Regions from separate parts of the Homo sapiens genome. Here region 1 is linked to region 2. A link means that fine-mapping ties the variant in region 2 to the expression of a gene that starts in the linked region. Tissue or cell type: coronary artery. Region 2 holds a variant in brackets; the other region holds the start of a gene. All regions are shown on one strand. Distances are from middle to middle.

What was found. PIP is the estimated chance that this variant, and not a neighbour inherited with it, causes the effect. A credible set is the group of variants that fine-mapping cannot tell apart.
Region 1: it holds the start of SLC4A5, and the variant in region 2 is the best candidate, but not a certain one, in a credible set for the expression of SLC4A5 in coronary artery (GTEx, PIP 0.55).

What each region holds. Positions count from the first base shown.
Region 1 is chr2:74,340,121-74,345,503 of GRCh38, reverse strand. It overlaps SLC4A5 (solute carrier family 4 member 5), which reads left to right and starts at 2,088. Exons shown (of 31, transcript NM_133478.3): 1 at 2,088-2,148; 2 at 2,970-3,046.
Region 2 is chr2:74,620,864-74,626,246 of GRCh38, reverse strand. The region is part of intron 2 of M1AP (meiosis 1 associated protein); the gene reads left to right. Among named protein-coding and RNA genes, the nearest start is that of M1AP, 25 kb to the left of the region's middle. The variant T/C (reference allele first, on the strand shown) is at 2,458.

The DNA of each region.
Region 1 (5,383 bases), 280 kb after region 2:
TTCCTCCTTCCTCCATTAGGAGGATTCCTGAGCCTGCAAACCTGTTCCCTTTGTGCATCCTGGAGGGACAGCCCCTGCCCCATACCTTCCAATACCCTCACCAAACCAGATGAAGCTCACCCTCAAATTCCTGTGTGAAGTGAGAGACAAAAAAACCCCAAACCTGAAGTGTCTGAAATAAATGTCCAAATTATTTGAACAAAACCTGGGTAGGTAGAAACCAAAGGGTTTCACTTGAATGCTTGGCAGTAACGTCTCAACTGGTCTTTCCACCTGTGCTACAATCCACTGTGAAGTCCATTATTCCATTCTTGTACCAAGTCCCCTTCCACATTCCTTTCACTTCAGACATGTTTGCTGATGTTTACACCTCTCCATAGACTACCCAGCCTATCGTCGCATGCCCAAAGCTTTATTTCCCCAAACCTGCCCTGTGCCAGGGAAACTGCTCTCCAGTTCTCAGGATATTTATGCTATGTTCTCCCACCTCTTATGTCTATATTTTTTGTGGCTTCTTCCCTCTGCCTCAGATACCCCTTGGTAGTTCTACTGTTCTAAATCCTACCCCTATCCTATCCCTTCACTGCATCTCCAAGGCCATTTTCTCCACAAAGCTTTTCTTTAACACATGGGGCTGGTAGGTAAGCCATGAACATTTGTGGAACAAGGTAATCCTCCAAACAAGGGTGATTTTTCTTTCACTGAACCCTTCCCTCCCTTTGTGCTTCTTTTTGGAGCCTCACACTCTTCTGAATTTGTTGAATCCCCAACCAGCTGGAAATTCCCTAAGGCCCGAAACTGTTTCTGGCCTAGGCTGTGCTGATCTTCCTGGGACTAAGGGGTTTCCTGGGTCACAGATCTTCTGTGCTAAAACCAGGAAAGCCTCTGGTGACCCAGCATGTGTTGATCTCCCTAGTCTTGCCTGTCTTTGATTCCATGGATTATTAACAGAAACTATAATGTTGGGTTAATGTGTTGGCTTGGGCATGGCCTCCGAAACATGTTTTTTACATGTCTGCCACCAGCAGGCTCTAGATCCAGGAATGAGGCTTTTCCACTAAGGGAAAACTCCACGTGATCTAGGAAGAAAGTGAGGATATCCAACCAGATGATAAATTTCCTATCTGAAAGAGAAGGTCAACCCTGAAATAAGGAGGCTGAAGACCCTTAGAGAAGCCACAGAAGAGACTGGAAGAAGAGGGGTAGAGTTGCTTTTTTAATGGGGCTTCCAGCTCCTACTTTTCTTCCTGTCTGTAAGTCTCTGAGCTTCTGTTCCAGCTCTGTAAGGTTGGGGACGAGAATGCTCTCCCCACTGGACTGTTGAGAGTTCAATGAGGGGAAATGTGTGCATATACCAGGCCCCATGCTGGGTGCCCAGAGACGCTGCGCCTTCCTGGCATGCTTCTCTTCCCCATCGCTCAGCACCGCGTCCCTCACTCCCTCCACTCCCGATTCTCACTTCCTACTCACTGGCTTCTTCCTTCCCATCTTCCTCCAAACTTCCCATTTTCCACTATGTCTCTCTCACCGTATCTTTTTCACTTAAACAAAAATGGAATTCATAAAAACAGAGGCCAAAAGTCAGGATAAACCTGGAAAAATCACCAAGTACGCAAAGTTTTTCTTGCAAGGTTTGGTTTTTTCAAATGCCTTCTTTGTTTTCCTTGCCCATATCCTTCTTCGGAGAGTCAGGATTTGGGGTTTGCAGAGCTGTGTGGCAGTGGAATGTGGAATGTTCTCCTGAATCTCAGTCCCATGAAGAAAAGAGGCAAAAGTCCTGACATCTTTCCTGAGGATTGTCTGATTTAAAAGAGCTGATTCTCCCCAGGCAAATGACTTACCTTTGTTGTGCTGGGACAAGCTGAACAGGCAAGGAATAAACCTCCCTAGAACACACTGATTAGATTAGCCAGTGAGAACCACTGAAGACGCAGACATTAGATTAAAAAACAGAAAAATGAATGTTACTTTTACAGTGGCTATGAATAGACAAAGACTTTTTGGTTTGAAAATAGTTGGTGAGGCAATAGAGGAGGGGCTATGTTAATAGCAGAGATAGAAAAAACGAGAGGTGGATGGTTCCAACTGCAAGGTCCACCCTAAAGGAATTGGAGTCAGGGCCCAGGAGCCACAGGCCACTGCACTGGGGTAAGTAGAGTGGATTTTACATAAATAAAGTTACAGAGTGGTTGTAGGTTCTGGTTTGGAGATGTGAGTGAACCAACTGAATAGAATAGGCAGATTCCCCAGCCCACCAAGAGTCAGATGAGAATTTTATTGCTTTTTGCTAAAGGCCTGTACAAGACTTAGAGCAAAGATAAGGAGTAACCTGATTGTTGAAACTAATCTATAAGTATTCCAACATAGCAAAGGACAAGTAACGGAATGACGAGGTTTTCCTGTAGTAGTGTTGCGATTTTGTTCTGCTGTGTCCCCCTACTCCAGTTTCCTCTGTGAGGGGAGCGTGTAGTGTGTGCATATCTGTGGAATGTCAGACTTCTAAAGTCAGGGGCTGAGACCTATATCTAGTTAGACCTCTGTGCATATTCTTGAGCCATGGGAGTCTCAGTGGTTGATAGTACTTCACACTTCTTCCAGTTCAATAAGGGTTACCTATGGTGTCTCCTCTGAGTCTCCTAGGAGTCCAGAAAACATGAGACTTGTATAAGAATCCACACTTCAACTAAGCTTTCTGGCCCAAAGAAGGCATTGTTACCAAGGATCTGTTTCTTGAGGTCTTTAGGGAGTGAGAGGGAAGGAACGCATGAGGAACCAGAGCTAGTCCCCATCTCTCTCCCTAGAAGTGACAGACTGCATAGCTCTTATGTATCAGGAGTCCTGGAGATCAGCTGGCTTTCCTTAAAAAAGGGTCATCCAGCCGTGATGAAATCCTGACTTAGAAACCCAGTGCCCTTAGCTTTGTGGGCTTCTGTCCCTGAGAAATGGTGTTTTACCCTCCCTCCAAGCAGGCATCCCAGGATTTGGAATTCAGCTGTGAGCTCATGAGCTGATGGATGTTTCCAGGAGTACCCTGAAGACCACCCAGGTATGCTCTCCCCACCTCCTTTATTTTGGATGGACCAGTCTAAGGAGAGTCATCTTTTCCCACACCATTGGTGGCACTCAGTGAGTGGCTTGTTGCTTGACTGAATGCCTGCCCACACCCTCTCCAGTCAAGTTTATCTTGAGTAACTAAACACTTAGCAATGGAGACACTCATACATCTCCACTGCACTAGAAGTAGGGATGGTGGCCATGCCAACAAAGGAGATAACTTTAGCACAAAGGATGTCACAAGAAACAGATAGTAGAGTGTGTTCTCCAGTGTTATCATTTCCCAAACCAGAATCAACTGGTCTTGGGTTTCCTTCCCTCATCCTTCATCTGTAGAAAACTTTGTTTCTTGAGCTACTTCAGATCTACTTCCCTATCTTAAGAGGTGGGCTATGTGCTTCTTCTGCTAATTTATTATCTCAGAAGTACATAATTTGAGCAATTTTATATAGTTTTGAGGACAGGAGCCCTGTAAGAGTCTCTTACTCAGAAATGGATTCAGCTTGGTTTGAGGTTTAATAGGTCATTGCAATGCTCCCTTCTGGTATCACAGGACATAAGCTGGGTTGGGCGGAGTCCCCCTTTTGTGTCTTAGCCTTCCTCTCCTTACTCCAGAGTAAGAGCAGCCCTGATGGAAAAACAAAATTACCATCCATGCCTACTTCATTTCTGCCCCTCTTACTCTAAGTCTGGGCAATCCGCAACATCTTTTTATATTGGACTTCCTAGATCACAGACTCTTTTTTTAGGAAGAGTCAATTCAAGCCACCCAGGACTTATGATCCCTTGCTCTGTGTCGGGCACAGTGTGAGCACAGTAATGGCATGGGCTGCCTGATGTGGGGCAGTCCCTCTTGGTCAGCAATTCACTCAGCAGCCATCTCAGTGCCCCCTGTGTAAATTTGAGGCACTTTGCCAGGCTGTGGGAACAGTGTGGGGTTAAACAGCACATGGTCCTTGCCCTCAGAAAGCTTAAAATCCAAAGTCAGATACAAGGTTATTTAACAGATGCGTGTTAATTAACAATTAAAGCTAATGTGCACTGTTCCATTGAACAAACATGACTTATGTGGTAAAATCAGAAAGCAGCTTGATTTTTGTCTCTTACTGCTCTTTTACATTTACTCTTTTTTTTTTTTTTTTTTTGAGATGGAGTCTCGCTCTGTCGCTAGGCTGGAGTGCAGTGGCACAATAATTGGCTCGCTGCAACCTCCACCTCCTGAGTTCAAGCGATTCTCCTGCCTCAGCCTCCTGAGTAGCTGTGGTTGTAGGCACCCACCACCACGCCCAACTAATTTTTGTATTTTTAGTAGAGATGGGGTTTCACCATGTTGACCAGGCTGGTCTCGAACTCCTGACCTCAGGCGATCCACCCACCTCGGCCTCCCAAAGTGTTGAGATTACAGGCGTGAGCCACTGCACCCAGCCTCTTTTACATTTATTCGGTGGGACTAGCTCTTGCTTTGCCCCTGAATGGAATTTAGGCAAGTCACAAGGTTGTTCCAGCCACCCTTGGTCTCAGTCTCATTTTAATAATTATAATTTCCAGTCCTACCTAAAGATACCACTTCAATCTTGACTTGGAGTGGAGCCTCTTCTGGTGCTGCTAAAGAACAGAGGCCCGTGGTGGATGGTGGTCTGGATGGGGAGTCCCTGGTTTCCACTCTTCCTCACTTATTTAGCTAACCAGGGTCCTCAACCCCGTCAGGGTTGTTGCCTGGAAGAGAAGAGGTGAGAAGAATATGAAAACTATACGTTTGTGATCTCCAGCTCACCAGTGGAACATGGTGATTCTTTTACAGATTCTTGCTGTAACTCCTCTGTTACTCCCCTCAAAGGCCAGCTTTTTCCACCCCTGTAGGAAATTCCTTTCCTACACCCACCCCATTTATCTCATCCTCATGGCCCCATGGGAATTTCTCTGCTTCTGCCCCCACCCATCATCTCTTTCCTGCCCATTTCTCCTCCATCTTGGATGAAGCTACCCTCTTCCCCTGGTCCTGGTTCAGCCTTTCATCGCTGCTCAGTAACATGAACCCCCAAAAAGCCAGCCAGCAAAGCAGAGCAGGCCTGCCTAGCATAGAAAATGCCAGAATTTGGAGAACAAAAGTGCTTTTTTGGATAGGACTGTTTTTTGTTGTTGCTCATACAACACAGCTCTTTGTGATTAATCTACATTTAACATAGCTCCAATCAAAGTGATAAAGAAATATTTTTATTAAAATGATTTCCTTTTATGGCAAAATAAGCATAAGATTGACCATTTTAACTATTTTTGAATGTACAATTCAGTGGCATTAATTATATTCACATTGTTCTGTAATACAACC
Region 2 (5,383 bases):
CTTAACATATTAAACTATGATAATAGATTACCTATAAGATATAAGGGAATTTATATGGTACCCTAGGGCTAAGGGAGAGATCCTAAGGAAAGTCAAACTTGAAAGGGGGACTCCCTTCCCGAGGCTGGGGTTCACACCAAATTGCAGAATGTGTATTTGTAACCCACTGGATGGCAGAGTTCACTAGTTTGTCAAGGCTAAAGTTGGTCTGCAGTTCCTGGGAAAGCAGGAAGCTACTCTCCAGTGATAGGTGAGCTACAGTGGTGGCTGGGCTTACAGGCATGCAGAGAGAGTGTAGGCAGGATGCCCAGAATACGTATTCTCCATGTTGGAAGAGCAGTAGCATTGAGATGGCCACAGGAGACAAACTTCTCACGGGGAGGAACAAGTAAGCAAAGGGAATTAGGCATTAGTACAGGCAGGAGGCCTGAATCATATGGTGTCCATGTTGAAAGGGCTGCAGAAAGGCGATTACTAGGCCAGGCAGGGCTATGAAGTCACTGAAAGACTATGAATTCTGAATGCATGGATGGGTCACCATTAGGTGTCCCTATACCCCACAGCTGACCCACAGTATGCTGCATGTAACAATAGGAGAGCCTCTTTATGTCCCTCCAGTGCCCTTTACTAAGAAAACTTAACATTGTGCTCACTGTAAAAGAGAAATGCTTAAAGGAATTTATCACAGAGCATGTACTGAAGGATGAATTTGGAGTTGAGAGGCAATAAATTAATAATTAATACACAGACCATGGGGAGAAAATAATAGGAATGGCTTTTCTAAGCATAATATAAAACCAAAAAATCTAAAAATAAAAGATTAATAATATATAAAAACAGAAAATGTATGCTTGGAAAAGAACACACATGCAAATTCTAAAGATAAATAGCTATGAGGAAAAATATTTGCTTCTCATATCATGTAGAGTTAATTTTCTACATACATAGAAAACTCCTACAACTCAGTAAGAAAAAAACATTCAATAACTCAGTAGAAAATGAGGATGGATATACACAGTCAGTTTTCAGAAAAGAAAATATAAATGACATTGAGACATGAAAATACATCAACCTCATTCATAGTAAGAGAAACCCAAATATGCAGAGATGTCACTTTCCACCTATATGATTGGCAAAAATTTTCTGTGACACATTTTCATGAGAATTTGAAGAAATAAGCATGCTTATATGCCATTTGTCAGTGTATAAATCGACATTATAGAGGGCAATTTGGTGACAGTATCACAATTTACATATCTTTTAAAGTAGCAAATTCACTTCTAGGACCTTATCCTACATATATATTTACACATGTACAAAAATAACTTAAGTACAAGATTATTCATTTTAGCACTGTTTGCAGTAACAAAAGATTGGAAACAAACTGAATGTCTGTAAATAGGGGATTGGTTACATAAAATCACGGTTCATCCATTAATGGAATACTCTATAATGATGTGAAATGATTGCTCAAATACAATAATCAACAAAAGCAAGATACAGAAAAGTATTGCCATCACTTCTATTTAGGGAAGAAAAATGATAGAATTACATATCCTTTTGAATTTCAAACCCTATGAATGTATGTATTCAAAACACATAAATATTAAAAATACATTTATGCTGATAAAATACCAATTTATATATAGGGAGTCTTTGTAAGATTTGATTTTTTATAAAGGGAATTCTGATTTTCTTTTTAAATATTTTTAATCCCCTCCCTAAACTGCATTCTGGTTTCTTGACCTGACCTCCAATGAAACATCAATCTAAGTTATCCTAACTGCCTAGGGCCATATTATCTATCTATAAGATAACCCAAAAAAGTTCATGTATGAAAGCCCAGAAATAGAATTCTTGAAGATTTTGTCAAGCCAAGGCATTTACATGATGTCCAACAAATATTAGCCATACTCAAGTGTTCTAGGTCAATAATATATGTCTACTGATTCCTGGAGTTTACCCAATTATTACCAATTTTTTATCCCTTATTTCTCTAACTTGACTTTCTGATAACCAACTAGAATGTGCCACAGCTTTACAGCCTCTGAAATCCTCTTCACCTTTACTTTAATGCTGGCTTATGCTGATCTAGCACTAGCCTGCTTATGCCTTTGTGACCAATCCCTCCAACAATGATATGAGTGTCAGCCTATTTCAAGACAACTCTATAGATAGATGATACACAGAGAAAAGACTTAAATTTTACATAAATGAGATAATACTATGCCTGCTGATTCCATTATCTAATTTTTTTTAATTAACAGTATATTGTAGGCCAGGTGTGGTGGCTCACGCCTATAATCCCAACACTTCGGGAGGCAAGTTGGGAGGATCGCTTGAGCGCATGAGTTCGAGACCAGCCTGGGCAACATAGCAAGACCTTGTCTCTACTAAAATTTTAAAAATTAGCCAGGTGTGGTGGTTCATGCCTGTAGTCCCAGCTACTCCAGAGGC[T/C]AAGGAGAGAGAATCGCTTGAGCCTGGGAGTTTGAGGCTGCAGTGAATCATGATCACGCCACTGTACTCCAGCCTGGGTGACAGAGCGAGACCCTGTCTCAAAAAAAATTAATTAGTTTAATTAAATAAAACATAAGTTAAACCAGTTTCAACCTTAGCTGCACATTAGATTTGCCTGAGGAAGTTTTAAAATATATCAGTGCGTGGAGCCCACCTGATAAAATTTAAATGTCTGAGGGTATGTCTCAATGCCTCAAACTCTCTCTCTCTCTTTTTTTTTTTTTTTATAGACAGAGTCTGGCTCTGTTACTCAGTCTAGAGTACAGTGGCACAATCTCAGCTTACTGTAACCTCCACCTCCTGGGCTCAAGCCATTCTCCCACCTCAAGTCCCAAGTAGCTGGAACTACAGGCACGGGTCACCATGCCTGGCTAATTTTTATATTTTTTTTAGAGACGGGGTTTCACTATGTTGCACAGGCTGGTCTTGAACTCTTGAGCTCAAGCAGTCTGTCCACCTCGGCCTCCCATAGTGCTGGGATTACAGGCGTGAGCCACTGCACCCAGCCCTTAAACATTATTTTACTCTCAATTATTACTGTTTTTAGGTATGCATATTAGAGATGACATACAGTGGAATTTTTCAATCTAGTCCAATAATTTGTTTTTTAGCTGGTATATTTTAGGAAGTAAGTTTGTATTTATTGTAATTACTGACCTTATTATTATTAAGATTATTCTGATTATCTTACTTGGTGTTTACTATTTGTCCTGCCTTTTCTTTGCTTGCTTCTCCCATTTACTATCTGATTTTGGGTTTGTTTTTTTTTTTTCCACTCTATTTTTTTTTAAAGTGTATAATCTATTTATTTTCTTTTAGGGGTTGCCCTAAATTAATTGGTATCTCTACCCTTCACTAAACAATACCTTAGAATGCTTTAACTCCGATCATCTCCCTCTCATCGTGCATATTTTTGCCCCTGTATTTTACCCCCAAATTAGACATTACTGCTATTGTTTTATACAGCTAATATTTATTTCATTTTACTCATATATTTACCAATTTATTTGCTTACCCTTCCTTCTTGCATATCAGACCATTTCTCTGTGATCAGTTACCCTCTCTCTTCCTTGAATTATATCCTTTAAATCAGCACCATTTACTAGATATGTAATGTGAGCCACACATATAATACAAATTTTTCTATTAGCCACCTTTAAAAATAGAAAAAAAAAAAAAAAAAAAAGCAGGCAATGGCCGGGCGCGGTGGCTCACGCCTGTAATCCCAACACTTTGGGAGGCCAAGGCGGGCAGATCACCTGTCAGGAATTTGAGACCAGCCTGCCCAACATGGCGAAACCCCGTCTCTACTAAAAATACAAAAAAAGCCAGGCATGGTGGCAGCCACCTATAATCCCAGCTACTCAGGAGGCTGAGGCAGGATAATCGCTTGAACTCGGGAGGCGGGGTTGCAGTGAGCCAAGATCGTGCCACTGCACTCCAGCCTGGGCAACAAGAGCAAAACTCTGTCTCAAAAAATAAAATAAAAAATAAACAGGCAAAACAAATTTTAATATTTTATTTGTCCTGACATATCCAAAATATCATTTCAGTATGTAATCAATATAAAAATTTATTGAATTTTTTATATTGTCTTTTTTTTTAATTTTGAGATGGAGTCCCACTGTGTGGCCCAGGCTGGAGTGCAGTGGCATGATCTCAGCTCACTGCATCCTCTGCCTCCCAGGTCTAAGTGATTCTTATGCCTCAGTCTCCCGAGTAGCTGGGATTACAGGTGTGCACCACCACACCCGGCTCATTTTTGTATTTTTTTTTTTTTTTTTAGTAGATGTGGGGTTTCACCATGTTGGCCAGGCTGGTCTCGAACTCCTGACCTCAAGTGATCCACCCACCTCAGCCTCCCAAAGTGCCAGGATTACAGGCTTGAGCCACCGCCCCCAACCAATATTAAACTTTTTTATGTTTGTTTGTTTTTTGAGACGGAGTCTCGCTCTGTTTCCCAGGCTGGAGTGCAGTAGCGCGATCTCGGCTCACTGCAAGCTCTGCCTCCCGGGTTTACGCCATTCTCCTGCCTCAGCCTCCCGAGTAGCTGGGACTACAGGCACCCGCCACCATGCCCGGCTAATTTTTTTATTATTATTATTTTTTGTAGAGACGGGGTTTCACCTTGTTAGCCAGGATGGTCTCGATCTCCTGACCTCATGATCCGCCCACCTCGGCCTCCCAAAGTGCTAGGATTACAGGCGTGAGCCACCGCGCCCGGCCAATATTATCTTTTTTACTACTCTTCAAAGTCTTATGTGTATTTTACATGGACAACAAACCTTCAGTTAGAGTAGCCACGTCTCAGATAATAACCACAGGCGGCCAGTGGCTGCCATATTTGACAGAGGCCCGGCTGGATCAGTTGTTAATCTGTGCCTCTCATTTTGCCAGCTGGGAAAGTGCTGCTTTTCTGGTGCTTTTTTGTTTTTTGGGGTTTTTTTTGAGACGGAGCCTCGCTCTGTCGCCCAGGCTGGAGTGCAGTGGCGCGATCTCTGCTCACTGCAACCTCCACCTCCCGGGTTCATGCCATTCTCCTGCCTCAGCCTCCCGAGTAGGTGGGACTACAGGCGCCCGCCACTACGCCTGGCTAATTTTTTTTTTTTTTATTTTTAGTAGAGACGGGGTTTCACCATGTTAGCCAGGATGGTCTCTATCTCCTGACCTCGTGATCCGCCTGCCTCGGCCTCCCAAAGTGATTGCAGGCGTGAGCCACCGCGCCCGGCCTTTCTGGCGCATTTTTAAGGTGTGTTTCTCTATTCTGGAGCTGACTCCTAGAGCCCTCAAGCTGGATTTGAAGGAGAAGCTGTTTGGACAGCATGTTGCCGCGGAAGTGATTCTCAAGGCACTGACTGGCTTCAGA